Linked DNA regions of Homo sapiens: all the other regions are linked to region 1. The links come from fine-mapping of genetic effects on gene expression. A gene starts in region 1. Each other region holds a variant in brackets. All regions are shown on one strand. Distances are from middle to middle.

Region 1 (10,270 bases):
CCGCCTCTGAGCACCCTGCCCCACCCCACCTCCACTCCCACCTCACCCGGCCTCTTCGCCTTTCCCACCCTCCTGCCCCACACTCCCCGCCTTAGAGCCTCGTCCCTCCCTCACTGAAGGACCTGAGCTGGCCAGGCCCTGAGAGTCTGGTCTGCGCCTTGGGATGGGGAGTCCCAAAGCGGGACGCCGCAGGTGTTTGGCACCCAAATCACATCTCACCTCCGAACTGTTCAAGTGTCCCCAGACCCTTCTTGCCTGCTGGGCTCCCCCCAGTGGGATGGGACAGGGAGGCCACACGCACTGGTGCCAAAACCAGGCCTCTGCTGCCGCCCTTCCTGGAGGCTGCCTATGTTGGGGGGGACCCTGCCTCAGCTGACCCGGCCTCTCTGCCCCACCCAAGCCCAAACTTGGTTTCTGTGAGAATAGTGGAGGAAGGTGAGATGGCCAGTTTGAAGCCTGTGCCTCCCAGCTTAAATCCTAGCAGGAGAGAGGCTCTGGGGCAGCCCCCATGGGCTCCTGCCCCTTTCAGGCCTACAGCCACATCCCCAAGCCCACCAGGTGTCAGGATAGTCACAGTGATACCAGTTCAGACACTACCCCATATACACCTGGAACATTGAGGATGGAAACTGGACTCACATTCGACATACCCCACTGGGCACACGCACAAACACACACACTATGGGGTGGGGTGGGTGTAGGGGCTTACAAAGCCTTACACAGGGCGAGGGGTTGGTGGGAGGGTTGGCACCTGCACACTCCATCTCCTGCTCACCACCTGCCTCTAATCTGAGCTGCAGCCTGGCTGGTCCTCCCATTTCTAAAGCTGAATGTCAAACAGTGCCAAATGCTGGGGCAGGGGGTGAAGAACCCTCTGTCCCACCCCTAGCCACCAGTGTCCTCCAAGTGCCCCCTCACCTCTCCAGGTGCTCATTGTAACCATTTCTCACTAGTGTCAGGCCCCCAGTGGGACCACATGCCACTGCCTGCACCTTTCGGCAGAGGAACCCCCACCAGACATCACCCTTTGCCTTAGCAGGGGTGACTTTGTCTCTCCTGGCTGGGCCATCCTTCCGCCAATCTGGCCCTTACACACTCAGGCCTGTGCCCACTCCCTATCTCCTTCCCACCCCTACACACACACTCCCTGCTTGCAGGAGGCCAAACTGTCCCTCCCTTGCTGAACACACACACACACACACACACACAGGTGGGGACTGGGCACAGCTCTTCACACCATTCATTCTGGTCATTTCCCCCAAAGGCATCCCAGCCTGGGGGCCAGTGGGGAACTGAGGGCAAGGGGATATAGTGATGGGGCTCAGATGGACTGGGAGGAGGGGGAGGGTGATGCATTAATTAATGGCTTCGTTAATTAATGTCATGTTGCTTGTCGCTTTCTCAGTGTGTGTGTGTGGTCCATGCCCACTGCTGGTGCCAGGGTGGGTGTCCATGTGCACCCGGCCTGGATGCCAGCTGTGTCCTTCGGGGGCGTGCGTGTAACTGTAGTGTAGTCAGGTGCTCAATGGAGAATATAAACATATACAGAAAAATATATATTTTAAGTTTAAAAAACAGAAAAACAGACAAAACAATCCCCATCAGGTAGCTGTCTAACCCCCAGCTGGGTCTAATCCTTCTCATTACCCACCCGACCTGGCTGCCCCTCACCTTGGGCTGGGGGACTGGGGGGCCATTTCCTTTTCTCTGCCCTTTTTTTGTTGTTCTATTTTGTACAGACAAGTTGGAAAAACAACAGCGACAAAAAAGTCAAGAAACTTTGTAAAATATCGTGTGTGTGATTCCTTGTAAAATATTTTCAAATGGTTTATTACAGAAGATCAGTTATTAAATAATGTTCATATTTTCACTTCAAATGGTTCCCATCCACTGTATCAGCTTGGGGGTGAGGACTGGGTAGCTATGAAGACAGTTGGCCAAGACCTCAGAGTCCCACTTAGTGCTCTGCAGGGGGTGAAGACCATGGTAGCCCAGGTCCCTGTCAACCACAGGGCATGGCACTTGCTTCCACCAGTTATAATAGGTGCCAGGCCCTTGACATACATTGTCTCATAACATCTCAAAAAGCTGTCTTTTAAAAACAAGCAAGACAGGCTGGGTGCGGTGGCTCATGCCTGTAATCTAGCATTTTGGGAGGCCGAGGCGGGCAGATCACTTGAGGTCAGGAGTTTGAGACCAGCCTGGCCAACATGGTGAAACCCCGTCTCTACTAAAAATACAAAAAAATTAGCCAGGCATGGTGGCATGCGCCTGTAATCCCAGCTACTTAGGAGGCTGAGGCAGGATAATTGCTTGACCCCAGGAGACGGAGGTTGCAGTGAGCCAAGATTGCGCCACCGCACCCCAGCCTGGATGACCGAGCGAGACTCTTGTCTCAGAAAAAAAAAAAATACAAGCAAAACAAACACCCTCCCAGAGCCTGAAAGCCAGGACCCTGGAGGGAAGAAGACAGATCAGAGATGCTGGTTTAGTGGGGAGGTGGATCTGGCAGTCTGGTCAGACCACCAGGGCCTGACAGGGCCTCTGCCGGGAGCTATGAGTGAGCACCTGGCCAGTGTCCCTACGGCCCAGGAAGCCCTGACCACAAGTGCAGCAACGGCTCCCTCCTGGCCCACAGGAGCTTGAGGCCGCAGCTGCTTAAACTGGAGCCATAGGCCAAACTTCATTTTTGTGAATCCTCTCAAGCTTAGGCCCTAGTTCATTTTCACCCTAGAAGGTGTGACCTTTGCGATCTTCTCATGTGGAGAGAATTATAACCTGTAACCACCAGAGCACAGGTGTCCCTGCCTTCCCACCACAGTCCTCTCTCTCCTCCCAACACTCTGCTCTCTGCGCACTGACCTGGCTGAGTCCTCGCCACAGTCTCTGGGGTGGGTACTAGTGTATCCCCATACCACAGATGAGCAAACTAAGAGGAGAAAGCCTTTCCCCCCAGGTGAGAAGGCTAAAAACCAGCAAAGATTTTAGAGAAGAGGTGGCCACCAAGGGTTGGGGAGCTTGGATGCTAAATAGATGAAGGGGCTTCGAGGCCTCAGCCAAGATGGAGACTTTTTCTGTCTCCTCTGCAGGGTTCGGCTGCAGAGCAATGCCTAATCCACAACCCCCAAGACAGCTCCCATGGCCTGCAAGAGACCGTGCAATCTTGGATAGGGTTGTAAGATAAAATACAGAACACCCTATTTTGAATTTCAGATCATGAACGAGTTTTTAGTATGGAAGTGTTTCAACTATTGTGTGGGACATACCTATACTGAAAAACTGGGGGCTGGGCACAGTGGCTAACGCCTGTAATCCCAACACTTTGGGAGGCTGATGCAGGAGGATCGCTTGAGCTCACGAGTTCGAGATCAGCCTGGGTAGGATGGCCACCCCGCCCCTGCCCATGTCTCTACAAAATAAAAAAATTTTAAAAATTAGCTGGGCACAGTAGTGTGTGCCTGTAGTCGCAGCTAATCAGGAGGCTGAGGCTGGAGGATCCCTTCAGCCCAGGAGTTAGAGGTGGCAGTGAGCTATGATTGTGCCACTGCACTCCAGCCTTGGACAAAGCTAGACCCTGTCTCAAAAAAAAAAAAAAAAAAAAAAGGGGGCAGGGGGACATGATTATACTCGAAGATTACTCATTGTTTATCTGGAATTCAAATTTGACTGAGCATCCTTATTTTGATTTGCTAAAACTGGCAACCTTACCCAGATGTGGCAACCAGTGGGAACCCAGACCCCAGAAAAAAAGCATCAGCACCCTTTTTAACCTGTAGGCCATGCACACATCAGCACACACTGAAATCAGTGGCTGAAAGGAAGGGATCCTGTGTTTTATAAAAGCACTTTGTCATAGAATTATTTTAATTATATGGACAGCTTTTTGTTTTGTTTTGAGACAAAGTTTCGCTCTTGTTGCCCAGGCTGTAGTGCAATGGCATGATCTTGGCTCACCGCAACCTCCGCCTCCCGGGTTCAAGCGATTCTCCTGCCTCAGCATCCCGAGTAGATGGGATTACAGGCATGTGCCACCACACCTGGCTAATTTTGTATTTTTAGTAGAGATGAGGTTTATCCATGTTGGTCAGGCTGGTCTCAAACTCCCGACCTCAGGTGATCTGCCCGCCTCAGCCTCCCAAAGTGCTGGGATTACAGGCGTGAGCCACCGTGCCCAGCCTATATGTACAGTTTTTTAAAAGTAACTCCATATACAAAAAAAAAAAAAAGACACAGAACACAACCTGTCAGAAGTCACTGTGGCGTGAAGTGGGACCAGAACAGGCCTAGCCCAGGCTTGTGGAGAGACCTGGCTTGTAGAGAGACCTCTCATCCTCCGCAGTTATCAGAAGTCCCTGGTGGGGAGGAGGGTCACTGAGGGCTGCCCAGCCTCGTCCCTATGCGGGAGGGAGCCCTAGGTTCGTGCTCCAGGTCCACCTCACTTGGAAAAAGGGCAACGTGAAATAACAAACAAAAAACTTTTCCAAGTGGGAGAAAACAAACAAAAAAAGGCAACATGTGCAGCACTCGCTGAGCACCCAGGGTGGACTGGCATTTTACACCCCTTTCCCCTTTGATTATTAGGACAGGAAGATCATGTCATCAGCTACATTTTATGGCCCATGAAACTGAGTTTCAAAAAGGTTCAGGAACTTAACCAACCAATGCCACACAGCCTCCGAGGCAGAGCAAGGGTTCCAGCCTGGGTCAGGTCCCATTCACCAGACCACGGAGGTTCTGTTTCTCACACAGTGACACCTACCCACACGCCAGCCAACAAGGACACACTCGCTCAGAGGTACACGCACAAATAGAGCTACTCTTCCTAGGGAATTCAGCAAGTGTGGGGGCTAGAGCTGTGTTGCTTCCCGAACCCTCACCGCCGCTTTCAGGGGTTAGAGATGCTAATTCATCCCTTCCCACCTCCTGAGAACCGACGGAAACGGTCCCTGAGAACTACAACTCCCAGCACACCCCGCGCTCACCACAACGGGACCGGTCCGTGCTCATGGCCTCCTGGGACTTGTAGTTCTAGCCAGAACCCTGTTCAACTCTTCCCCGGCTGCAACCAAGGACTCCGTATCCCAGCATGCAGAGGAGCCGGAAGACAGGCGCTTAGAGGACAGCCCGCTGCCGCCGGGGACGCGCAGGCGCAGCACCCCTGTTTGTCGGCCCCCCGAGAGAAGAGGTACGGTCGAAGCCAGGAGCCAGGCCGAGCGGGAGCTGACCAGGCTTGACTCGGGTACAGAACGAGGCACCAGTCCCCTTGCGAACCGAAGGGCCTCGCAGTGGATGGAGGAGGCCCAGCCCTGAGGTCAACGCCAACCAGGCTAGCCTGGCACGGGGCCTACAGGGTGGGTAGGCGGGCGTGCCGCAGCCGTCCAGGGCCTTCCCTCAGGTCCCGGGCGAGGGGCCTACGCTGCGGCCCGGCAACAAGGCCCGACTCGGCCCCTCGGGACCAGAGCCCCACCCGATCGGAAGCGGATCCTTTACCAGGGCCATAGGCCAGTGACTAGGCCGGGCCTGGGCCTCCCATCGGGGCCGGACTAGGACGAGGCCCCGGGGAGGCCCCTGGCCTACCAGACCCTTTTCTCAGGCCGACAGCCGCCAGGAAGATGCAACGTGCCCTGCCAGGCGCCCGCCAGCACTTGGGGGCCATTCTGGCCAGCGCCAGCGTGGTGGTGAAGGCTCTGTGTGCGGCGGTACTATTCCTCTACCTGCTCTCCTTCGCCGTGGACACAGGCTGCCTGGCGGTCACCCCGGGCTACCTCTTTCCTCCCAACTTCTGGATCTGGACCCTGGCCACCCATGGGCTGATGGAGCAGCATGTGTGGGACGTGGCCATCAGCCTGACAACGGTGGTGGTGGCCGGGCGTTTGCTGGAGCCCCTCTGGGGGGCCTTGGAGCTGCTCATCTTCTTCTCAGTGGTGAATGTGTCTGTAGGGCTGCTGGGGGCCTTCGCCTACCTCCTCACCTACATGGCTTCCTTCAACCTGGTCTACCTGTTCACTGTCCGTATCCACGGCGCCTTGGGCTTCCTAGGTGGCGTCCTGGTGGCACTCAAGCAAACCATGGGGGACTGTGTGGTCCTGCGAGTGCCCCAGGTGCGCGTCAGTGTGATGCCCATGCTGCTGCTGGCGCTGCTGCTCCTGCTGCGGCTCGCCACGCTGCTCCAGAGCCCGGCGCTGGCTTCCTATGGCTTCGGGCTGCTCTCCAGTTGGGTATATCTTCGCTTCTACCAGCGCCATAGCCGGGGCCGAGGGGACATGGCTGACCACTTTGCTTTCGCCACTTTCTTCCCTGAGATCCTGCAGCCTGTGGTGGGTTTGCTGGCGAACTTGGTGCACAGCCTCCTGGTGAAGGTAAAGATATGCCAGAAGACGGTGAAGCGCTACGATGTGGGTGCCCCATCCTCCATCACCATCAGCCTGCCAGGCACAGACCCTCAAGACGCCGAGCGGAGAAGGTACTGTGAAATTTTCCAAAATCTTGTCAAGCTAGGAGCATACTGGTCGAGTCACATGCCATCTGTTGAGGTGTTCGCTGTACATAGGTGGAGACCTACAGTCAGGTATTGGGGCACATCCGGAAAGACAAAATCAGTCTTTGGCCTTAAGGAACTCAGCAGTTAGGTGTCTGGGGTCCACGAGGCACTTTTCTCACCACTCGGGCCACTTAATAAGTCTCAAGAAATGCAGTTTCCTTTGGTGCTGTGAAGTCCCAGTGGAGGGACACAGAACCCTGGCCTTGCCTCAGAATCTCAGAATCCTAGACATTGGGCCTGTGGGAGCCAGAAGCAACCTGCTGGTACTTTCCCCTGTGAGGAAGGGACAGGGAAGGAGGCCTGGGGTCCTCAAAAGGTGATCTGGGCCACTCCAATTTCCAAATGCTGTGTCCTCTTCCTGGGCTTTAACTCAGATGCTGTGCTTCTCTGCCACTTACTTATTGAGAGGGAAGCTTGGGGTATTACCACATTTACCTCTGTCTCCAGCAAGCATGTGTCACCAAAACCAGGGACAGGCTACATGACCCACTGAGGGAGCCTGCTGACACCAGGGAGTGGCGATGACCCTTTCATTATCTGTAAACCAAGCTATCCACAGCATCAGGAGTCCCAGCTGAATTATTCACTGAATGCACTTTGGCCAGGGCAGGAGGGATCTTTTTAAATTCAGCTTACTCTCTCTCCCAGATCTGTGGAGCCAGCAGAGTGGTCCCAGCCTTCATAAGATCCACAGCTCCATTTCCAACATTATTCCTCACTGTTTTGAGGCAATTACTCGAGTAGTAAAATCTGGGACGGGCTTTGTCTTTTGCATTGCCAAGGCTCCTGCTTTTGCTCACCTGTGAATGGGGTTGTGGCAGGAAGCTCTATGAATTTAGCTGCAGTTATCCCTGTATTTACTCTCCACTGGGCTATGGAATTGAGTGTGGGACACACTCCTTTCTTGAAGGAGTTCCAGCTGGGGAAGGGCCACAGATCACTATGGCCCAAGGTATGGTAGGTGTTGAAAAGTATATACAGCATGCTGCAGGGCATAATTCTGGGCCCTAGAGCTTGGGTCTTTATAGGTGATAAGCCCTAAGGACAGAAGTCTCTCTTAACCTTAGCTGGTATTAAAGATGGGGCCAGGTGAGCTGGGCCTGGTAGGAATTGAGCTGTCCCTCAGAGCCATTCAGGTGGGGCCAGGCCAGTGGGGACCCCTCCTCCACTGAGAGGTGTTGGAATGTTAGGGTTGGCTGGACATTCAAAAACCTCTGCCTAGGCCCAAGAAAATGGACAGGGGGGAAGCAGGTTGGTGGGGAGGAAGGGAGGGTCAAGAGGCGGGTTCTTGGCATAGCCTTATGGTTGTTAGCTTACATGGGGGTGGCGGTTATTCCTCCAGCCAGTTTGACATCTGACTGCATGGCCACGCCCAACTCCAAAGGGCTACCAGGAGAGGGAGGCAGGGTTTCCTATCTGTCTCTCTGGTCCTTGTGAGGAAGTGACTAGCGTAACACTAGCTCTCTGCCTTGGCAGGCTTTAGATGGAACTGGCAAGGGCATCATCAGGATGGCAGCCTGGGTAGCAGCAGGGAAAGACTGTCCTGTCTATACCAACTTGTCATGTGTGAGACTGACGGGCAGGGGGGAAGCGTGCTAGGGCTTTCTACACCTGTGCCCTTGTTGCCTCTCTTGTCGTGTTCCCTGACATGGTGGAGATTTTGGTTCTCAGCTGGAACCTGAAAGGCTACACAGGCTGTCCCCACATTGGTGGCACAGAGAGGCTGAGGTATAGGAGTCCACAGTGGTCACTGTTGAAACGGTTCCCTGGCAGCTGCAGCACTCCACCTTCTGGTGGGTCAGGGTCCCAAGCACATGTGTAAACCTTCTTCTGTTGGACTTTCCCACCTGCCCTCAAAGTGGGGCCTCTAAGGGTCCACCCTGTGGAAGCAGTAGGCTCTGGCCTGTGCCTACCCATGTGAGCTGTTTCTCCTTCTTCTCCTCTTGCAAGGGCTCCGCTAAGTCCCTGCTCTAACAAGGGCCTTGGTGGCTTTGGGGGTTCTTCTGAGAGGGAGAATATTAGCATCAGTTAGGAGGGGTAGACTCACCCAAGTTGGCCCTGCTTCCTGGGCTGAGAGCCAAGGGAGGTGTTGAATTCCAGCCTTCCCCATTGACCCTTGCCAGGAGGCTCAAGATACCCCTAACCAGGAGAGGGGGAGAATTAATAACCCTTCCCTTGGATGTGATGCCAGCACCCAGGCAGAAACTCCTGGAAACTCCAGAACTTGCCGTTCCACCCATCTGCCCTAGGGCACTAGTTCCACTGACCCTTAGATACCACCCTCAGAACCATTCCTGGTGGCTGGCCTCGTGGGCAGTCTGGCAGACACCCAGCTGACCTTCCCATCCCGGAGGTGCCTCAGCTATGGAGGGAAGATTCTTAGAGCCTTTGGGTTATCATTCTGATGGCAGAGTGGGTCCTAAACCAATCTCTGGGGAGTCCCAGGCTCTGCATGGTGAAGGGGAAACATAGGATTCTGGGGGAGGAGTCTAGGTGGTACGGTGAGGAGTCAGCCTGCTGCGGAAGGGTAGAGGGCATGAGCCAAGGCCAAACCCAGAGTGACCTTTCCTCTCTCCTCTGGCCCCAGGCAACTGGCCCTGAAGGCACTCAATGAGCGGCTGAAGAGAGTGGAAGACCAGTCCATCTGGCCCAGCATGGATGATGATGAAGAGGAGTCTGGGGCCAAGGTGGACAGCCCCCTGCCCTCAGACAAAGCTCCCACACCCCCAGGGAAGGGGGCTGCCCCAGAATCCAGTCTAATCACCTTCGAGGCAGCTCCCCCGACGCTGTAACTCCAGACCACCTTGAGTGTGGCACCTCCCCTCCCAAGCCCCCCTTGACATCCTCTCAGCTACTCCAGGGCACCTGACTGCTCTGAGGAGAGGGAAGAAGGCCTGCTGGGGCTTTCCATGGCCTTCTGCTGTTTCTCGCCAACACTACCCAGGACTCTTGCTACCTGGTTCCAACTCCAGACAACCACTATGCCAGGCCCGGAGCCTCTGAGGCATCGGCCAGTCCAGGCCCTCATCTGAGGTAAGAATGTACATCAGCTGGCAGCCCCAAGCAAGTGGCTGCAGGGACACTGATGCCACAGCTCCTGGGCCGGCCCTCACATCTGAAACTGGTTGCCGAGAGCCCTGAGCCAAGGCAAGGATTTGCCAAAAATGTTCTGGGGGCCCAGCAAATGCAGGAGCCGACCTGGGGCTGCACATCCCTGCCCATCCCCAGAAAGACTGTTCCTGTCAGGATTTGTTTCCCTCTGCTGTGGCGGTGACTGCTTCTGGACCAGAACAGCTCCAGCTCCCAGGTATTTTCTACAGGACCACTTGAGTGGGCAGCCAAGCCCAGGCTCGCAGTATCAATAAAGCAGTTCTCTGAGGAATGACTCCTGGGCTCTTGTCAGGCCACCTTGTGCAGCCCCCTCATCACGTTCAACTGCAATGTTAGACAGGGACTTGATTGTCTCCATGGTAACTCCAGCTGGATAAGAAGCCCATTGCCCCAGCTCCCCACCACCGCCACCACCACCACCACATGCGCACTGCCAAGCAGCCTTCCAAGAGCTATTGCCTCAGACTCTTACTCCTTTTTTCTTTCCCTCCAAACCCCAATCTGGGAGGCCTTCTGTCCCTGCCTAGATCTGATGATAAGGGCCTCTCCATCATAAGGCGCTGTTCTTACCCATGGTTTATCTCTAAGACAGAATGCTCAGTTCTTGCCACCCCTGGA
Region 2 (10,270 bases), 700 kb before region 1:
ACTACTAATAACAATTACTAGTTTCTGAAATAGATTCTGAAAAGGCAGAGCTATAATGTCTGTGTAAGAGCTTAGAGAAAAGGCATAAGAGTTTAAAATCATATATTTAATTACATCAATTAAAACATTAAAATACATTTGGAAAACACTGATTCACATGCTAACATGTGCTAAACTTCAAGATTTTATGGCATTTATAAAAGTGTGGTGGAACAAGAAGTGTGGAACTATCAGAATAAAATGGGAACAATGGTTATAGTCATCTGTTCTCAGCTTTTGTGTGGAACAGTCTGTTTTACATAATCTAATGGTATGAAATGACTTTGTTTTTACAATATACCATCTTTTCTTTCAAAATAGGAAGAAAAGTTTTAAAAGAGTAAGCTCAAGGAGAAATCAGAAAGAACAGTCCTATCAGTTTTGGTGCAACATGTCTTTTCCTTTCAATAATGACAGACCTGCAAAGTTCTTGTTTAGGTTTTTAAGTGACTATATTTTCCACTGAAGGAAAGGAGAAAATAAGAAAAAAAGGAAGAGAGGGGTGGGGGAAAGAAGTGCAAGGGGAGGAAGAAAGGAGAAGAAAAGAAGACGGAAAGTAGGGAAGGGAGAAAAGGAGAAATAGGAAAGAGGGAGAAGGGAAGTGGGGAGGGGAATGGAACTGTGTTTTTCATTTTTGCTTATTAAGATATGCATATACATACCCCTCCAACGCGCGCGCACACACACACACACACACACACACACACAAACATATTTCATTGAGAAAAAGTCATGAAATTGGAATAGCCCTGTAATTTACTGGCAGGTATTTATAATGTTCTGAGCCTTTTTCAAGTACAATTTGAACTTGTTTCTAAGCTATCATCTATTTATTTTCAGATTTGATTGCAAAATCAGATTGGTTTGTTTTTCAAGTTTCATAATAAAGAGGTATAGGTACTGATAGTTCTGAAATAGTTCTATTTAATGGAATCTATAGTTGCAGTTAAACTGCAACATAATGAATTACACATTTATTAGTGTCATCAGTTCAACTGTGACCAATTTGCTTGGCACACAGTAATGTTATATTTGCAATTACTGTATTCTTATCATTGACTTAAAAATAAAAAGTGACATAATTTCATAACATAAAAATGTTTGGGTTTGAAGAGGCAGAATTAGTAGCTATGCTGTACATCAACATACTGTATTTTACTAAATTGTTATTCCCCAAAGTTAGATTTAGGGAACACTGATCTATGGTACACCTAAATTCATGTTATACACTATTATAGAAGGTAGTCTGTGGTAGGTGCCAAGCAATCCTACTAACAGTCATGATAGGGTGTAATTAAACAAAACAAACAAAGATATAAAGTTGTGGCTTCAAAAAGGTCACAAACAACGAATTTAGTGTTATATTTCCTCTTTTCTACTGATGAACACTACCAATTTGGGTGTGATCTACTGTTGATTAGATTCCATGTTTCCTCTTTCCTGATTTATTCTTCTACTTTGCAGAAGCACATCCGCAAGTCCCTTCTTAAGAAGGGGTCATGAGAGGGAACTTTCGTGCATCCCTGAATACCTAAAAATGGCTTTATGGTTTGTGTCCCCTCTCACTTAATTAGATGGTTGGGATTTGTAAAATAAAACTCTGGCTGGCAAATCATTTCCCTACAGAACTCTGAACATATTATTTCATTATCTCCTAGCATCCAGTGCTAATGATAACACTTTTGAGGACAGTATGATACTTATTCTTTTGTGAGAGGAACTATTTTTCTGTCTAAAACCCTTAAATAGTCTTCTCTTCATTCCTAGAATACTAAGCTATCTTAATGTGCCTCGTTGTGAGTTTTTGTTTGTTTGTTTTGTTTTTCCATTCATTATAAATATTTAGTGGGACGCTTTCAATCTTAATATTCCTGTTTTTTGGCTCTGACAAATTTTCTATTATTCCTTCAGAATTTCCCCCGTTCTTTTTTTGGAAGGCAAAATGTTTGATATTGGACCTCCCTGGGTAGAGCCTTTGTACTGAATTTCTTTCCTCATGTATTGCCTATATATTTGTCTTATTTTCCTAGGGATTACATAAAATTTGTCTTCTCTGAGTATTTTATTTTGGAAATTACATTCTCCACTTCTTTTACATGGCATCTTATTCTACATAGTGGATCTTTTAGATTCGATTTGAGGATATTAAAGTGTTTTTGTTTTGTTTTGTTTTAAAGTACTTTATCAATCTCAATTTGCTCTGGGGACAGGTTACTTTCTTTGTGTACAGGTGTTTTGTTAATCTTGGTCTCTCTCTGTCTTGTAGAAGCTTTTCTTCAAACATCTGGTGATACCTGATTGTCCATTCAAACTTAAAAGATAGCAGAAGAATTGTAGAGTTTTTTTGTACATGGGTAGGTGACTGGCAAGTTTCCCTTTCTGGTAAGCGGGAGCAATCTGCTCATTATACTTTAAAGTCCTTAAATGCCAGAATGTGGAGAGTTTTGCAAGAAAGTCCCAGTTCACACTCCTGTTGCCCAGTTTTTCCCCGGTAGCCATTTTTTATATTTGTTTATCTGAAGAGGAAATACCTGGCCAGGTTTCTGCTCATTGATTGGGGTAGACTGTTCCTTAGACACTCTTTTAAGCCAAGTCCTTTTCAAAGCTTCAAGACCTATCCCACCTTCTATGATTCTGGGAGCTGTGGGGCAGACTGACTCTCTCATTAACTAAGGTTTCCTCCACATATAATGGATTTACTCTGTCATTAATCTTTCATCTACTTTCCGGCTTCCAGAAATGGGCTCATAGATTTCATTTATTGGTGGGCCCCTCCCAAAAAGGATAAGGAGCTAAAGACACACATATAAATATACTTAAGGTATATGTATATTTTAAGTAGGAGGCAACCTGGTCACTTAAAAGTTCAATGGACCCAATTTTAAGAGAATGAGACAAAAGCACCTGAAATTTATATCAATTATAAAGTTATATTAATTATTATATCAATTATTGATATATCAATTATATTCACTGAAAATTATACCCTAACTTCCCATACCAAAGTCTTCAAATTGTACTTGTATGGCAATAGCAAATCATAGTTATTACATAAATGCAAGACTATTACTGAATGACAAGGTAGTCAAAAATATTCTGAAGTACAAATGTAGACAGTTTCCATTTGTAGGTTATGCTCATTCAGATTCATTGTATGGCTATAAAATGTGAAGGACACTAAATTCACATTTGAAGAAAGCACTAAAATATATTTTCAAGTGTATTCTGATTAGGAGGTGTAGAATCAAGAAATCTGAGGTCAAAGAAATTTAACTTTATAGGATAATCTAGTCCTATTATTTACCTCTTCTTTTCAGAAGCAAAAACAGAGGCTAAAAGAGGTTCAGCAACTAGAACCAGTGAGTATCCTTCGCTAACTAGGACAAATAACTGCTCCTAGCAAAAATGATGAAAGCTTAGTGAAGAATATAACATTGCCTTTGAATCATTAAAGAGAAGCTTTGTATAGGTGCAAACTCCCTGAAGACTGAGTTATCATAAATGAAACTGAGAGATACCCAAACAATTTTCATACTTACTCATTACCCCAGTCCAGGCGCACGGTGATGTGCCGCTTAACCTCCCGCACCTGATCCTGAGTCAGGTGACCAGACAGTAGCTGCCTTCGCAGGTCAATAAGTTCATTCATCACATGGCGTAGTTTGTAGAAAAGATCTACTTTGTGTTTCTGAAAGGGCATTTTTGGTGTTGGGTGAAATACAAGAGACATGGAAAAGGAATGAAAAGAAAAAGAGAAATAGTTAAACTATGAAAAGTGCTCATTTCTCTGAACTACTAAGGTAATATAAAGAGGAACTTAATTTTAAAGTCTGAAAGTCATTACCTCCTTCTATCCAAAAATCTCTACGTAGTGACATCCAACAAAGTAACATAATTGATTTGGATCATGCAAAAGTAGCATTTATCTCTACCACATCCTAGATTATTCATTTCTTTAGTAAATCAAAGTTACTAAACTTAGAACAGAATGTTACACAGGAGCCCAGAGCTGCTTTCCCTCACAGAAGTTGCAGTTCACATAAAAGCAAAAATTTCAACCATCCAGCAATAACTCTGGTTTCTCCAGGAGAGATATCCAAGTTGGGAGAGGAAGAATCATTTGCCCTATTTTGAAGCAACTAATGTTTCAATATAAAGCCACAGTCCCTGGAGTGAAATTCACTCCTGATTTCTAGGCCTCATCTGATTTTCTAATTAGCTTTTCTAAACGGTGTGTCCTTCCCCGACTCCCTCTGGTGTAACAGATTTCCAGTCTTTTCAGTTTAATAAAAATTGTCACCTTTGTAAGAGTTAAACGGAAACATCTTAACAAACTTAATTATGGACCTGGTAGTAGTTTTAACCTTAAAAGTAGAAAAATATAAGTGTCATGAGAATAGATGCTTCAGAAAAAAGATGTACTTAAAAATAATGTATGAGTTTAAAAACTCAAGTCCTATTTGCTGATATGTGAAATCTTGATTTTAGAATATTTTGGTTTCTGTATAATTAAAATTCTTGGGATGTAACTGATCTATAAATAATGCTTCTGAAGGCAGATTAAGATGTTAGTAAAATATCTGTATGAGATTTACCCTAAAAAAGATGTTTGCCAAAATAAGCTCAAGTCAAAGAAGCTATAAATAAAATTAGCTATACAGCAAATCACAAAACAGTAGAATCAGGTAGTGTTTTGAGGTGGCAGTGATCTTATAACTAAAACATTCAGAATATCATACTACTTAGAAATCATCTAATGTGACTTTTTTCTATTAAGAGACAGGATCTCACTCTCTCCCAGGTTGGAGTGCAGTAATATAATCAGCTCACTGCAGTCTCCAACTCCTGGGCTTGAGCAATCCCCTCAACTCAGCCTCCTGAGTGGCTCGGATTACAGGCCTGGCTAATATTTTTTTTTTTT[G/TTG]ATAGAGTCTTGATATGTTGCCCAGGCTGATCTCAAACTCTCAGGTCCAAGTAATCCTCTTGCTTCAGCCCCCTAAAGTGCTGGGATTAGAGACATGAGCCACCACACCTGGCCCCATTAGACTTTTAAAGATTCATCTTAAAGAGAAATTATTTTTAACTAGAAGATGTTAGGAATCATATACTCTAACTTCTCCTTTCTTTAATCGATGAACTGATGAAGAAAAGTTAAGCATCCTGATGGTACACAATGCTGGAAAAAGGTGAGAACTCACAAATTCCTGCCAGCTCAAAAACCAGCAAAGCCCAAGCAAACTATACCATCTGGAAAATTGGAATCTTGACGATTAAGCCATAAAGGCAATGTGATATTTGTTTCCAACACATACGTTTCATATTGATAAAACAAAATCACCTGTTTAAGTATAAAACAGAAAGTTTGAATTATTATTTTCCCATCAAAGCCTATATGATAGTCCATTGCATGTATACATCCACAAGCATTCATTCATTCATCCAATTAACAAATGCTTGTGCAGCACCTCTTGAGTACTAACACTTTGTTGTGATCAAAAGTCCCTGCTCTCATGGCACTTTTGATCTAGAGAGCAGGCAATAGGCAAATCATTAATGATGGTGATAAATTATAAAAAGAAAAATCAGAGTGGCCAAGGGTAGGCTGGCTGGGGCACTGGGGAAGGTACTGCTTTAGGTGGAGTGGTCAGGGAAAGACTTTTTGGGAGCTGAACTTTGAGAATACACCTGAATGAAGTAAGGTGGCAACATTTAAGAAAACTGGGGACATTATTCAGGCATAAGAAACAAGTGCAAAGGCCTTGAGGTGGAAGTAAACATGGCATGTTCAGGAAAAACAGGGTCAGTGTGTCTTGAGAAAGGGAAGATTGATGATGCAGACAGGCAGCAGGCACCAGGTTAAACACAGATTTTGTAAACCACCTTAAGGCTTTGGCTTTTATTCTAAGCAAGATGGGAAGTTACTGGAGATTTGGAGCAGAAGAGTGATGTGATATGACTTAAGTCTCGAAAGCATCACTCTGAGTGCTCTATTGAAGATAAACCATAAAAAGGCAAAGAGGAAGGCAGGGATTCCAGTCAGGAGGCTATTTAGTGCAACAGTTCACAGCATAACAGCTGCTTGGATGAAGGTAAGAATGCTGATGTTAAGAAGGGCTTGAAGTTTTGACATGTTTTGTAGGTAGAGGTGCCAGAATTTGCTGACGGACTAGATGTGGGTTATGAACAGAGTAAAGTATCACTCTTGTTTTGTGGCCTGGAAAGCATGCCTGGAAGAAGGAAACTAAGTTTAATTTTGGACATGCTAAGTCTGACACTGATTTCCAACATTCAGAGGTTAGGAAAGTGAGAAGTATTTAGCAGAGGAAACTAGAAGGAGTAAGCAGTGAGGTGAGAGGAAAAGCAGGAGAGTATGTGTCATGAAAGCCAAATGAAAACTGGATTTTTCTTTTCATGGCTTTTTTTTTTATTATACTTTAAGTTTTAGGGTACATGTTCACAACGTGCAGGTTAATTACATATGTATACATCTGCCATGTTGGTGTGCTGTACCCAGTAACTTGTCATTTAATGTTAGGTATATCTCCAAATGCTATCCCTCCCCCCTCTCCCCACCCCACATCAGGCCCCGGTGTGTGATGTTCCCCTTCCTATGTCGATGTGTTCTCATTGTTCAATTCCCATCTATGAGTGAGAACATGCGGTGTTTGGTTTTTTGTCCTTGCAATAGTTTGCTGAGAATGGTGGTTTCCAGCTTCATCCATGTCCCTACAAAGGACATGAACTCATCATTTTTTATGGCTGCATTGTATTCAATGGTGTATATGTGCCACATTTTCTTAATCCAGTCTATCACTGTTGGACATTTGGGTTGGTTCCAAGTCTTTGCTATTGTGAATAGTGCCGCAATAAACACACGTGTGTATGTGTCTTTATAGCAGCATGATTTATAATCCTTTGGGTATATATACAGTAATGGGATGGCTGGGTCAAATGGTATTTCAAGTTCTAGATCCCTGAGGAATCGCCACACTGACTTCCACAATGGTTGAACTAGTTTACAGTGCCACCAACAGTGTAAAAGTGTTCCTATTTCTCCACATCCTCTCCAGCACCTGTTGTTTCCTGACTTTTTAATGATCGCCATTCTAACTGGTGTGAGATGGTATCTCATTGTGGTTTTGATTTGCATTTCTCTGATGGCCAGTGATGAAGAGCATTTTTTCATGTGTCTGTTGGCTGCATAAATGTCTTCTTTTGAGAAGTGTCTGTTCATATCCTTTGCCCACTTGTTGATAGGGTTGTTTGTTTTTTTCTTGTAAATTTGTTTGAGTTCACTGTAGATTCTGGATATTAGCCCTTGACTTCAAACTATACTACAAGGCTACAGTAACCAAAACAGCATGGTACTGGTACCAAAACAGAGATATAGACCAATGGAACAGAACAGAGCCCTCAGAAATAATGCTGCTTATCTACAACCATCTGATCTTTGACAAACCTGACAAAAACAAGAAATGGGGAAAGGATTCCCTATTTAATAAATGGTGCTGGGAAAACTGGCTAGCAATATGTAGAAAGCTGAAACTGGATCCCTTCCTTACACCTTATACAAAAATTAATTCAAGATGGATTAAAGACTTAAGTGTTGACCTAAAACCATAAAAACCCTAGAAGAAAGCCTAGGCAGTACCATTCAGGACACAGGCATGGGCAAGGACTTCACGTATAAAACACCAAAAGCAATGGCAACAGAAGCCAAAATTGACAAATGGGATCTAATTAAACTAAAGAGCTTTTGCACAGCAAAAGAAACTACCATCAGAGTGAACAGGCAACCTACAGAATGGGAGAAAATTTTAGAAAACTGGATTTTAAGGAGGACTTTGTCAAAGGCACTGGGGGGTTAAATAAATATGAACTGAGAATTGGCCAGGGGATTTGGCATTGTGGTGGCTGTCACTGACCTCTACAGGAACAGTTTCTTTTTTTTTATATGCAATAGATGTCTTATTTTATTTTATTATTATTATACTTTAAGTTTTAGGGTACATGTGCACAATGTGCAGGTTCAATGAATTGTTGGAGTGAGTTTGAGTGAGATTGTGAGAGGAAGAAGTGGAGAAAGAGCACAGACAACTCTTCTGAAGAATCTGCAGTAACTAAAAGCAGAGAAATGGGGTAGCAGAATGTGACTGTGTGGTTAAGGAAGGGTTTTTAAAAGATTTGACAAAATTTCAAACTAAATTTTGAAGAGAATAATCTATTAGAGGGAGAAAATTTGATGATGCAGCTGTTAAATCCTTGAGTAGACATGAACAGATGGATCCTGGGGAAAAAAGGGGAGGGTTTGATTTAGGTAGGAGGCTTGATACTCTGTGTTACCTACCTATTCTTCACAGAGAGGAAGGGTACAGAATATGGGTAATGATACAGGTAGCTGGTAGATCTGGTAATAAGAGAACTAAAATTTTCCTCTGACTGCTTTATTCTCAGAGAAATAAAAAGCAATATCATCAGCTGGGAGTGAATAGAGTGGGAAGGGGTATTTGAGATTTGAGAATAGAGCAAACGATATAAAACAGTCTCTTACGGAGTGGTAACTTGAATTGACCAGAAAGTTAGTTCCATTGCTAGGTAGTTCTGAGATCTGTGAAAACTAATTAAAAGTAATGTGGGATGTGGGGTGTGTGTGTGTGTGTGTGTGTGTGTGTGTGTGTGTGTGGTTTTTTTTCTAGCAAAGTCTAATGAAGTATACTGATACTGAGGCATCATGTGTATTAATGTACATGTGTGCTATGGTCCAAATGTCTGCATTTCCCCCTCAATAAATTCATACATTGAAATCCTAACCCTCAAGGCAATGGTATTAGGAGGTGAAACTGTTTGGGAGATAATTAGGTTATAAGGGCCAAGCCCTCGTGAATGGGATTAGTGCCCTTATAAAATAGGCCCAAGGCCATTATCCTAAGAAAATTAATGCAGAAACAGAAAAACAAACACCGTATGTTCTCATTTACAAGTGGGAGCTAAACACTGGGTACTCATGAATATAAAAACAACAACAATAGACACTGGGGACTATTAGAGGGTGAAGACAGGGTGAAGTACAAGGGTTGAAACTTACCTGTTAGGTACTATGTTCACTACCCGTGTGAGGGGATTATTCACATCTCAAATGTCAGAATCATGCAACATACCCATGTAACAAACCTACACATGTACCCCCAGATCTAAAATAAAAGTTAAAATGATTTTATACATACATACATATATATGTAATTATTTTATACATATATGTATACACCCACAGCCAAATTTCCTATTAATATTTAATTAAATATTTGTATTTATTACCTTAAAAAAAATAGGCCCAAAGGGGAGGTTCTTTCATCCCTTCTCCCATGTGAAGCCATAGCAAGAAGGTGCAAACTATGAGGAAGTGGACCCCCACCAGACACTGATTCTGCCAATCTTGATCCTGGACTTCTCAGCCTCCAGAAATGTGATAAATAAACTTCTGTTGTTTATAAACTGCTCAACTTAGAAAATTTTGTTATAGCAGCCCAACAAACTAAGATGGCATATACGTATTATGTATGTGTATATTAATGCATATACATGTACATATATACACACATACACATGTAATACATACATAAATGCACAATACACATATACAATATCTATGCCACACGCACAAACACACACTATCTATGCAAGAATATACAAATGTAGTCTTTTAAGGCATTGTACATGGTTTTTTTTAATCAAGAGTTTCACAGATTGCATTTTCCAAAGATAACTACAATATCTCCCATGACAAGTGGTCTTTTGCAATAATGTGACTTTGATACCCTTCCAGCATGACATGGAATCTATTTTCCCACAGTTTTGAATCTGGGCAGGCCCTGAATATGCTCTGACCAACAGATATGGCAGCAGTGAGCTAGGCCAGTTCTCAGCCTTTAACTAGTCTGGCTGCTTCTGCTTCCTGCATTTTGGAATGCATGTTCTTGGGAGCTGAGGCCATAAGTAAGGAGTTTCAATGGTGTGAGTGAGCAATCTTGGATACCTAGCCCAGCTGAGCCTTCAAAGGACTACAGCCCCTACCAATACTCAACTGCAACAAAATGAGAAACCCTAAATGAAAAATGCCCAACTGAGTTCACTATATCCAGAAAAGAATGAAAAATATAGTTATTTTAAGCCACTAAGCTTTGGATGGTTTGTTATGTAGGTAACTGAAACAATTACACAATTTTTTTCAATAGAA
Region 3 (10,270 bases), 300 kb after region 1:
TTTTTGGTAGAGATGGAGTTTCACCATGTTGCTGGTGTCAAACTCCTAAACTCAGGCATCCACCTGTCTTGGCCTCCCAACGTGCTGGGATTACAGGTGTGAGCCACTGCACCCTGCCTAATAATTTGATTTTGTATTAGATGTAAAAATGTTCATCATCTCTGATTCTGAAAATGTGTCATAGGGAGTAATTTAAAAGAAGAAACAAAATGCTAAATGTTATATATTATGACAGTATAAGATTAGAAAGAGGCGAGCAAGGTGGGTCTTGCCTGTAACTGAAGCACTTTGGGAGACTGAGACAGGAAGCTTACTTGAGGCCAGAAGTTCGAGATCAGCCTGGTCAATCTAGCAAGATCCTGTCTCTACAAAAAAGCAAAAATTAGCTGGTCATGGTGGCTCATGCCTGTAGTCCCCGCTACTTGGGAGGCTGAGGTGGGAGGACTGCTTAAGCCCATGGGTTTGACGTAGAAGTGAGCTATGATCATGCCACTGCACTCCAACCTGGGAGACAGAGGAAGACTTTGTCTCAGAAAAAAAAAAAAAAAAAGGAAAAAGAAAAGATTAGAAAGAGAAGACAAATAATGTAGGAGAGATGAAGAAAATGAAGGTACAGTTATACCGTGAATTTTTACCATGTGGGCATTAAAAATAATAGAGTATATAGAAACATGGAAAAAATACTTAGGATAAAAAGTGACTAAACAGTATCTCCTGCTATAATTACAACTAGAGAAATGTGTATAAAGTCAAACACTAAAAAAGGAATGTAGAAAAGTGAAAATGTATGGAGCTGAGGTGTTGGGATTTGAGCTGGGCCACTTTGTTCTACCATCCATAGTTTTCCCATTTGTAAAAGAGAGAGTTGGGATATAAGAGGTGAGGGAATTGCCTACACCAGGTAAAAATACTCATTAACAGAGGTTTTTTTTTTTTTTTTGATACAGAGTCTTGCTCTGTTGCCAGGCTGGAGTGTAGTGGCGCGATCTCGGCTCACTGCAACCTCTGCCTCCAGGGTTCAAGCAATTCTCCTGCCTCAGCCTCCTGAGTAGCTGGGACTACAGGCGTGTACCACCACACGCAGCTAATTTTTGTATTTTTAGTAGAGACAGGGGTTTCACCATGTTGGCCAGGATGGTCTCGATCTCCTGACCTCATGATCCGCCCGCCTTGGCCTCCCAAAGTGCTGGGATTACAGGCGTTAGCCACCACGCCCGGCTGACAGAGTATTTTTAAAGTTACTTTACACTTGCAAACATAGATATCCTCTGTTCGTACCTCCAACATTTTAATAACTATGTGGCAAAAGACAGCAAATTAACAATTCCTCTTACCCTCGTCACTCCTCTGTCTTTTTTCTCCTTGCCATCTCTTTTAGACATTTCCTTCTTGCTACTTGACTTTCCTTGACTGGTGGGTTTTTTTTCCTTGATCTCTTCTTCCTCAGGTAATCCAGGATCCTGGGGCACATAGACTTCTTGCTGCGATACAGTTGGAAACAAGTAAGTCTACAGAATGTTTCAGTTTCCCAGCAATTCCAGGTCTAAGGCGCACAGTTCCCTTTTAGGGGAAGAAACAACTTTTTTACTTACAAGTCTAAGAAGAGTCCACATCAATCTAAAAACCCACTCCAGGGACCAGGACACATTCAGACCACCCACTGTCCACTTTTTCAAGAGCAACACTGTTCTTACCTGTATTGCCACAAGGCACTGATTTTCCATATAGGCAACAGTTCTGTTTCCATAGATCTAAACTTTTCCACTTTTCATGCAATGAGCATCCAGAGAATCCAGGGAATAAAATCCTCAAGTAGCAAATTATGGGTGCTTTTCTCAAAAGAATCATTGACAGAGGTAAAAAAAAAAAAAAAAAAAAAAAAGCCCCAAACTCACCTGGGTATTGGGGTCATAATAAGTTCCTGCCAAGGGGTCATAATAGTAGCCAGTAGCAGAATCATATATGTAGCAGTCAGATGATGCTAAAGGTAACAAGATCAGAGCCAATGTTAGTCTCTGTCCAATGAAGCCCTTACTGGAGACTCATCAAGAACCCAAGAATTAGGGTGACCAACACAAATAGGTGCATCTACAGATGCCTCTCTCTGGATGAGCACCCTCAGTCAACAGTGTATCTTGCCAACTGTGATCACACAGATGTCAAGTAATGAGTAGCAAGTCAAGCAAAAAAGAGCAACAGAAATAAAACAAAGGTTACTTACACTGTTGTCCTTGTCGATTTGTATCTGAAGACCAGTCTGAATTTCTGCCACCTCCCCTCCTATCTCGGAAATATTTTTTACCCTATCACAGAAAGGCAAGTTAAAATTACAGAACTATCCAATGGTCATTCACCTTAACAGTCACCCACTAAAGAAAATTCAAGATCACCCTTATAGTCACCTGAGGATTTTAATAGAGCACTCCCCACCTGTTACAGCCTACCTGATAGTAATGCATGTGGTCAGAATGGTCCCCAGAATCATTTCTGCAACAGATAACACAACAATTCTTAAGGCTGCTACCAAGTGGCATTTGACGAGTACTTAATCCTACAGTTCCTATCGAGAAATCCTCTGTTCCTCATTTTGCAGGGAAAGGAACCAACCTAGACAGCAAGCAGGTTGGGTGGTCCAGACACTCCTGAAAGAATGAGCAGTAAGACTCTTTTTTTTTTTTTTTTTTTTTTTGAGACGGAGTCTTGCTCTGTCGCCCAGGCTGGAGTGCGGTGGCGTGATCTCAGCTCACTGCAAGCTCCGCCTCCTGGGTTCACACCATTCTCCTGCCTCAGCCTCCCAAGTAGCTGGGACTACAGGTGCCCACCACCACGCCCAGCTAATTTTTTTTTTTTTGTATTTTTAGTAGAGACGGGGTTTTACCGTGTTAGCCAGGATGATCTCAATCTCCTGACCTCATGATCTGCCCGCCTCGGCCTCCCCAGGTGCTGAGATTACAGGCGTGAGCCACCACGCCTGCCCAATGAGCAGTAAGACTCTTACAAAGCCAAGTGGTGGAGCAAAACAGCCATTAAGTGGAGGGTGCTAGAGCAAGATATGCCCCATATTGGTAAGCCTGTTTCTCTGACATGGCCATTTCCAAGTTACCACTCCTGGGTCAAGATGAGTGAAGGAGGAAAGAGAAATTAGATTTCCCAGTGCTATGGAAATATGCACAAGGTCAGGGGAAGGAAAAGCCAGGACAGCATTTTCCTAGGATTGCAAGGGGCAAGAATGTATTGACATGTGTCTGCACATCCAAAACTGTACCATCATTTTTTTGTTAAGAGATAGGGTCTTGCTGTGTTGCCCAGGGTAGAGTACAGTGGTTATTCACAGGCATCTTCATTGCACACTATGGCCTAGAACTCCTGGGCTCATGTAACCCGCTCCCCATCTCGCCTCAGCCTCTTTAGTAGCTTGGAATAGAGATATGTGCTACCACGCCAGGCCATTTGGGACCCAAAGATACCAGACAGTCAAAAGGGAAAGGACAAAAGTACCTAGTATTATTCAAGAAAGAAAACAATTCGAGAGTCAGGACAAGTCAGGCTTCAGAAAGAAACTGTAATAAACACCTATCTGAAGCAGTCCATGTTAGGAAAACATCATGCTTTACTGTTTTTCCAGCCAGGAAAAGGAGTTTCCTCTCAAAAACACAAGTGGGGGCAGCACAAGAGATCCTCACCCTTCTGCCTTACCTTCGTTTTCCAGTGGCCAGGTTTACAGCTACCATCTTCCCATCAATGCTAAATGGCGGATCAAGGTTCTGTAAGATCTTCACCACACGAAGAGCTTCCTATAGAACCAGACACACTTGAACCCAGAGACAGAAAATGCCAGAACCCAAAGACAGAAAAATTCTCCTTTGAAAGAGAAGTGAACGTGGATTTTCCTTCTCAGAGGATAAATTTACTACATTATATTCTGTCAAAATTTTAACAGTAAGAGCATACTGGCAGAAACAGGCAACTTTTAATGAAGGACTGATTGGAACAGGAATCAGAATAGATGTCAGTTCTGGCATAAACTTCAGAAATTCAAATCCTCTTCTTTTAGGTTGCAATTATCATCAATCAGATTCAGTTTACAAAGTCCCTTGTGACTTTTGAGCATGAAAAATCTAAGAAATACCAATGACTTTCATTATCTTCACCTTACTTCCATAGAAAAAGGCCCCGCAACTAAAAATTTAAGCCACAGGAATCTATAAATACTTTGAGGAAAAAGAGGAAATGTTTTATCATCAAATATAAAACCATCTGTGGCTGGACAAAATAAATCAGAAAGTTCACTAAAATCATGAAGGATTCAGTACTCAGATTCTTCACAAGCGAGTAAGTTGGAAACAGTAAATGACACAAGAAAAAAATGAACCTAGAAAACCAGACGGGATCCTAACTTTTGAGGGCTGTCACCTGACCTGAATGAACAATAAACCCAAAGGAGAGAGCAAGAGGGATTATGATATCAGGTAGCACACAAGAATTCAAATGATCAAGAAGTCCCTCAAATTTTTTTTTTTTTTTTTTGAGACAGAGTCTCGCTCTGTCACCCAGGCTGAAGTGCAGTGGCGCGATCTCGGCTCACTGCAAGCTCCGCCTCCGGAGTTCACGCCATTCTCCTGCCTCAGCCTCCCGAGTAGCTGCGACTACAGGCGCCTGCCACCACGCCCAGCTAATTTTTCTGTATTTTTTAGTAGAGACAGGGTTTCACCGTGTTAGCCAGGATGGTCTTGATTTCCTGACCTCGTGATCCACCCACCTCGGCCTCCCAAAGTGCTGGGATTACAGGCGTAAGCCACCAGGCCCGGCCCCCAGTCAAACCTTCTTGAAGGTTCTTTAGCCATCTGTCTCTAGGCCAATCCAAGGTGGAGGAAACTCACCGCATGGGAGTCGAGGTCAATAAAGCCATAGGTATGCCCCATAGGGCCTGTTCTGTTCTTGATGATACGGACGTTGGCAGTAGTAAGGCGGACATAGGGCTCCAGCACTTCCACTATCACCTCAGGTGGTGTGGAACGATAGATACGCTTTAGCATGATAGCTGAATCAACCATAAATGGGAGAAGGGCAACACAAGGGAGAGAAAGATAAATTTTTGAAGTCCCAAGAATCTGACTGTCATTTTTTACTATAGATGCTACTAGCAAGGCTGGTTCTGTAAAAAAATGCTAAACAAATAAATACTGCATACTTTTCTTCACCAATACTTAGAAATCTAAAATCATGCCTTACTGCATTCATATAGCAATTTACTATTTGAAGGGCATAGATTCCTTTAAGCAGTACAGGAAGGTCCACAGACAGCAATGGCCTCTGTCATCAGGTCATGCACAGATCTCTCAGGGTACTGGAAAGCAGATAGCTCCCGGACATAACATTGGCCATCTATGCTCCATTGTGATGATCACAGTCTGGTATGTGCCCTGACAAACTACTTACTTTTGCTCTCTCCATCCTGGCGTGTCTCTCCAGACCATGACTCCCTCTCTCGGTCTCTTCGGAAAGTTGGCCCTTCCCTTCGAGAAGGAGGCAGATACCTTTCTGCTTCTCTCTTTTGATGTCCTAAGCGTGACTCTTGGCCTTCTTCCCTCTTCCTGGGTTCAGGTTCCTTATCAGCTGGTCTTAGGGGCTGGTTGGGCTGTTTTTCCAATGGTGCTGGTATGGATGTTTTCTGAGGCTGAGGGTAGGTTATTAATTCTTGCTTGGCCTCTGTCACTAGTGGAACAGAAACAAAGAGAATCTCTAGAAAGCTTTATCAAAAAAAAAAAAAAA[G/AG]AAAAAACACTGCTACTGTAATTTCTCCTTACCTGCCAGCAAATACTCATACTGGAATGCCTTTTTTTTTTTTTTTTTTTTTTGAGACGGAGTTTTGCTCTTGTTGCCCAGCTGAAGTGCAATGGCATGATCTTGGCTCACTGCAACCTCTGCCTCCCGGGTTCAAGCGATTCTCCTGCCTCAGCCTTCAGAGTAGCTGGGATCACAGGTGCCCACCACCACGCCCAGGTAATTTTTTGTATTTTTAGTAGAAACGAGGTTTCACCATGTTGGCCAGGCTGGTCTCGAACTCCTGACCTCAGGTGATCCACTTGCCTCGGCCTCCCAGAGTGCTGGGATTACAGGTGTGAGCAAACACGCCCGGCCTGGAATGCTTTTAATATTATCTCAGAAATATCTAATAAAAAGTCCTCTGACAGTTCCTGACAAAATATTTTAAGTGAAGCTGAGACAGGACATGAAATAGTTCACAGAAGAAACTATCCAAGCATTTAAAAAATGTAATCTTATGAAATCTCTATATCACCTACTAAACATTTAAATATAACAAATCCTTCATGACACCTTGAACCTGACTATCATAATCAATGATAACAACACATCTGGGGACAAAATTACCGAAGATATGGCCCTTACTTAAGGTTTAGTAGAAACACATATCCCAAACACACATCTAGAAGCCTTGCTTCTTCCAGTGTTACAGTGCTCAAACAGCTACTCATATCCTGTAAGACCACAGGCCCTCCTCCAGTGAAGCTAGGAACAGACCCTATCTGCACGTAGCTCCTTTATATGCAAATAAACATAATGGGCAGACGTCCTTCAAAATATAAATGATTTATTTCAAATGTCCTACTACAGCAGGATAATTTGTCTTTATAGTTTGTTTTATAATTAGGGGCACATTCTTGTAACTAATTCATTCTTGGAGGGTTCACTGGAATCCATGTGGCTCAAAAAGAGGTATTATATGAGAGCAATATAGAGATTACATAATAGCAGTGACAGGTTTCCAGATTAAAGCTGTCTCATCTTAGTGGTATGGTGCCCAGTGGTTTTCATACACTATCTATTCATGGCCGGGAGCGGTGGCTCACGCCTGTAATCCCAGCACATTGGGAGACTGAGGCGGGCAGATCACGAGGTCAGGAGATCGAGACCATCCTGGCTAACACAGTGAAACCCTGTCTCTACTGAAAATACAAAAAATTAGCTGGGCACGGTGGCGGGTGCCTGTAATCCCAGCTACTTGGGAGGCTGAGGCAGGAGAATGGCGTGAACCTGGGAGGCAGAGCTTGCAGTGAGCCGAGATTGCGCCACTGCACTTCAGCCTGGGTGACAGAGCAAGACTCCGTCTCAAAAAAAAAAAGAAAAAAAACAAAAAACTATCTATTCATTTGCTGGAATAGCTTTGAAAAAAAGTGTTTCTTGTGGGGGGAAAAAAACACAACTTTGCCTAACCTGAAGTGACCTAACAAGCAAAAATCTCAGTTGTTCATCCTCCTTCCCACATTTTGGTTTGGTTTCTAGAACATACACAGCCTTCCCCTAAAGATTTTCAGAACACCTGCCTTTCAGTCTTCACCAGAGTAAAATCTCCACAAGAGGACAAAAGCCCACCTAAGAAACTCCTTGTAGGCACATTAAACTCTAACCTTGCAACAAACAGAAGGCTACCTGAATCCCTGCACTGAACTATATTTTATGGTCATGCTGTGGCTTTCCTTAAGGGATGACTACAGGACTGTTGTTATGGATGCATGTGTCTGACTCTTCGAAGTTGCCTACCTGAAATTTCTCTAAAGAAATTTACATTAAAGATAAGTGCTTGAGAAGCTGGTAGTTTTATTCCTCTAAAATAATAAAATGTTCCCCACATCCTGATTATTTTCTCCTATTTATGTTTTTACTGTTATTTTAACAAATGTTTTTCTCTTGAAAATCCTGAAATGCTTACAGAATGTAAAAGAGAAAACAATAGAGCAAATGATTCCCAATAACTTCAAAGAAGTAGGAGTGGGAGAAAGGTTTGCCACACAGACTGATGTCATAAAGACTCTTTTTCAACCTAACATCCTTAATCCTTAAATGTATTCCAAATAACAATATACTGACCTCTGCTCAGCTGCCCACTTAGCCACTTTAGCCTAGGAGCCCACAACCCTATCTCTTTCCTCTGGTGAAAATAAGATCTGAAATCATTTACTAACAGGTTACGTTAAGTTGGGCACCAAACTGCAATTTTTTTTTTCTCACTCTGTTGCCTAGGCTGGAGTGCAGTGGCGAGATCTCAGCTCACTGCAACCTCTGACTCCTGGGTTCAAGCGATTCTAGTGTCTCAGCCTCCCAAGGAGCTGGGATTCCAAGCATGTGCCACCACACCTGTGGCTAATTTTTGTAATTTTAGTAGAGACAGGGTTTCGGCATGTTGGTCAGGCTGGTCTTGAACTCCTGACCACAGGTGATCCACCTGCCTTGGCCTCCCAAAGTGCTGGGATTACAAGCGTTAGCCACCATGCCTAGCTCAAATTGCACTTTTGAAAGGTTTGGGCCGGTCGTGGTGGTTCACGCCTGTAATCGCAGCACTTTGGGAGGCTGAGGCAGACAGATCACGAGGTCAGGAGATCGAGACCATCCTGGCTAACACGGTGAAACTCCGTCTCTACTAAAATACAAATAATTAGCTGGGCATGGTGGTGGGCGCCTATAGTCCCAGCTACTAGAGAGGCTGAGGCAGGAGAACAGCGTGAACCTGGGAGGCGGAGCTTGCAGTGATCCGAGATTGCGCCACTGCACTCCAGCCTGGGTGAGTACGAGACTCTGTCTCAAAAATAAATAAATAAATAAAGGTTTGCAGGCCTTGTGCAGTGATTCACACCTGTAATCCCAGCACTATGGGAGGCCAAGGTGGGTCGGGTCACAAGGTCAGGAGTTCAAGGCCAGCCTGACCAACATGGTGAAACCCCGTCTCTACTAAAAATACAAAAAAATTAGCCGGGCTACAGGGCGTGGTGGCACATGCCTGGAATCCCAGCTAATCAGGAGGCTAGGGCAGGGGAATCGCTTGAACCTGGGAGCTGGAGGTTGCAGTGAGCCAAGATGGTGCCACTGCACTCCAGCCTGGGCAACACAGCGAGACTCCATCTCAAAAAAAAAAAAAAAGGTTTGTAGATCAACTTGGATTTAGGGATGATAATTCTTCAAAGCCAAGGAAAACATGAAATTTGTTTTGCTCAATGCACGAGATAAAAACTGCTACCACTTTCGCCACTCACCTTCTCTTGGGTTCTTGCAGAATGAACAGGAAGATCGGTGCCCACCAATGTTTGCCTTACACTGTAAGGAAGAAGGAAATCAATTTGACTGAAAACATTTTTAAAAATCTTATGTATATCTAACAAAGTGAAACCCCCCAAAAATGAAAGAAACAAGCCATATCCCAGATCCCCTCAAAGCTTAAAAAAAGAATCTGATATTCCCCACTGATTAGAGCTGGCAGATGGGATCTGATGAGCTACTGTTTGAGAGCTACCTTATAACAAGGCATCTGGGACTTTGGTGCAGCCCAAATGCCTTTGCCCTGGATAAAGATTCCTATAGGAAATATGCCTAGAAAACTACTGTTACATGGTTTATAGAATATTATTGTCCCAAAGCCATTTACAGTCTGCACCCAAAACTTGGGCCTGAACTGACTATGAGATCCCCATTCACATTTGGCTAGAACTGAGAATTCAGTTATCAACTCCTTTCTCAAACACTGATAATGAGGTACAAGGTAGGAGGAAGAGATACAGATAGTGTCTCTGGCAGCTATCTAAAAGACATTGAAAGGGAACATTCACTAGCCCAGAATAAGGTAAGAGACATTTTTAATGTGAATGTAATTATTTTTGTCTGAACATGTGAACAAAAAGTCAAGCACACTGCCCAACCCCGAAATCCCTGAACTTTTGCCACTGAGCTTCCAAATGCCATGGGGGCAGAAACTTGGTTGGCAGGAAATAAAAGAGTAAGAACTATAAAGAGGATGGTATTTGAGGAGGGCCTTATAGGGCGAGTAAAGGTCTGCCAGATGGAGTTGAGGAGAAAACAATAACAATAGTAGCAGTGGCTAATTCTTTTTTTTTTTTTCTTTTGAGACGGAGTTTCACTCTTGTTGCCCAGGCTGGAGTGCAACGGCATGATCTCGGCTTACCACAACCTCCACCTCCCGGGTTCAAGCGATTCTCCTGCCTCAGCCTCCCGAGTAGCCGGGATTACAGGCATGTGCCACTACACCTGGCTAATTTTGTATTTTTAGTAGAGGCAGGGTTTCTCCATGTTGGTCAGGCTGGTCTCGAACTCCCGACCTCAGGTGATCTGCCCGCCTCGGCCTCCCAAATTGCTGGGATTATAGGTGTGAGTCACTGCGCCCAGCCGGCTAATTCTTAAATAGTACATACCATGTATTTGGCCTACTGTATATGTCATCACTTATTGATCCTGACAACCCCAA

The links.
Region 2: its variant is fine-mapped to the expression of TMEM115 in whole blood (INTERVAL, PIP above 0.99).
Region 3: its variant is fine-mapped to the expression of TMEM115 in whole blood (INTERVAL, PIP above 0.99).

What each region holds. Positions count from the first base shown.
Region 1 is chr3:50,354,406-50,364,675 of GRCh38, reverse strand. TMEM115 (transmembrane protein 115) reads left to right here and starts at 5,155. Exons shown (of 2, transcript NM_007024.5): 1 at 5,155-6,463; 2 at 9,129-9,926. The coding sequence starts at 5,613. The coding sequence ends at 9,333. CACNA2D2 (calcium voltage-gated channel auxiliary subunit alpha2delta 2) reads left to right here. Exons shown (of 38, transcript NM_006030.4): 38 at 1-2,063. The coding sequence ends at 10. It overlaps LOC127898564 (CYB561D2-LOC101928965), which reads right to left. Exons shown (of 5, transcript NR_183066.1): 3 at 6,000-6,558. RefSeq lists enhancers at 1-108, 4,936-5,235, 4,962-5,852.
Region 2 is chr3:51,057,905-51,068,174 of GRCh38, reverse strand. DOCK3 (dedicator of cytokinesis 3) reads right to left here. Exons shown (of 53, transcript NM_004947.5): 6 at 3,579-3,727. Among named protein-coding and RNA genes, the nearest start is that of MANF, 320 kb to the left of the region's middle. The variant G/TTG (reference allele first, on the strand shown) is at 4,961.
Region 3 is chr3:50,053,173-50,063,442 of GRCh38, reverse strand. RBM6 (RNA binding motif protein 6) reads right to left here. Exons shown (of 21, transcript NM_005777.3): 8 at 9,048-9,108; 9 at 5,440-5,715; 10 at 4,881-5,041; 11 at 3,697-3,794; 12 at 2,445-2,487; 13 at 2,222-2,303; 14 at 1,896-1,981; 15 at 1,335-1,481. Among named protein-coding and RNA genes, the nearest start is that of RBM5, 31 kb to the left of the region's middle. The variant G/AG (reference allele first, on the strand shown) is at 5,773.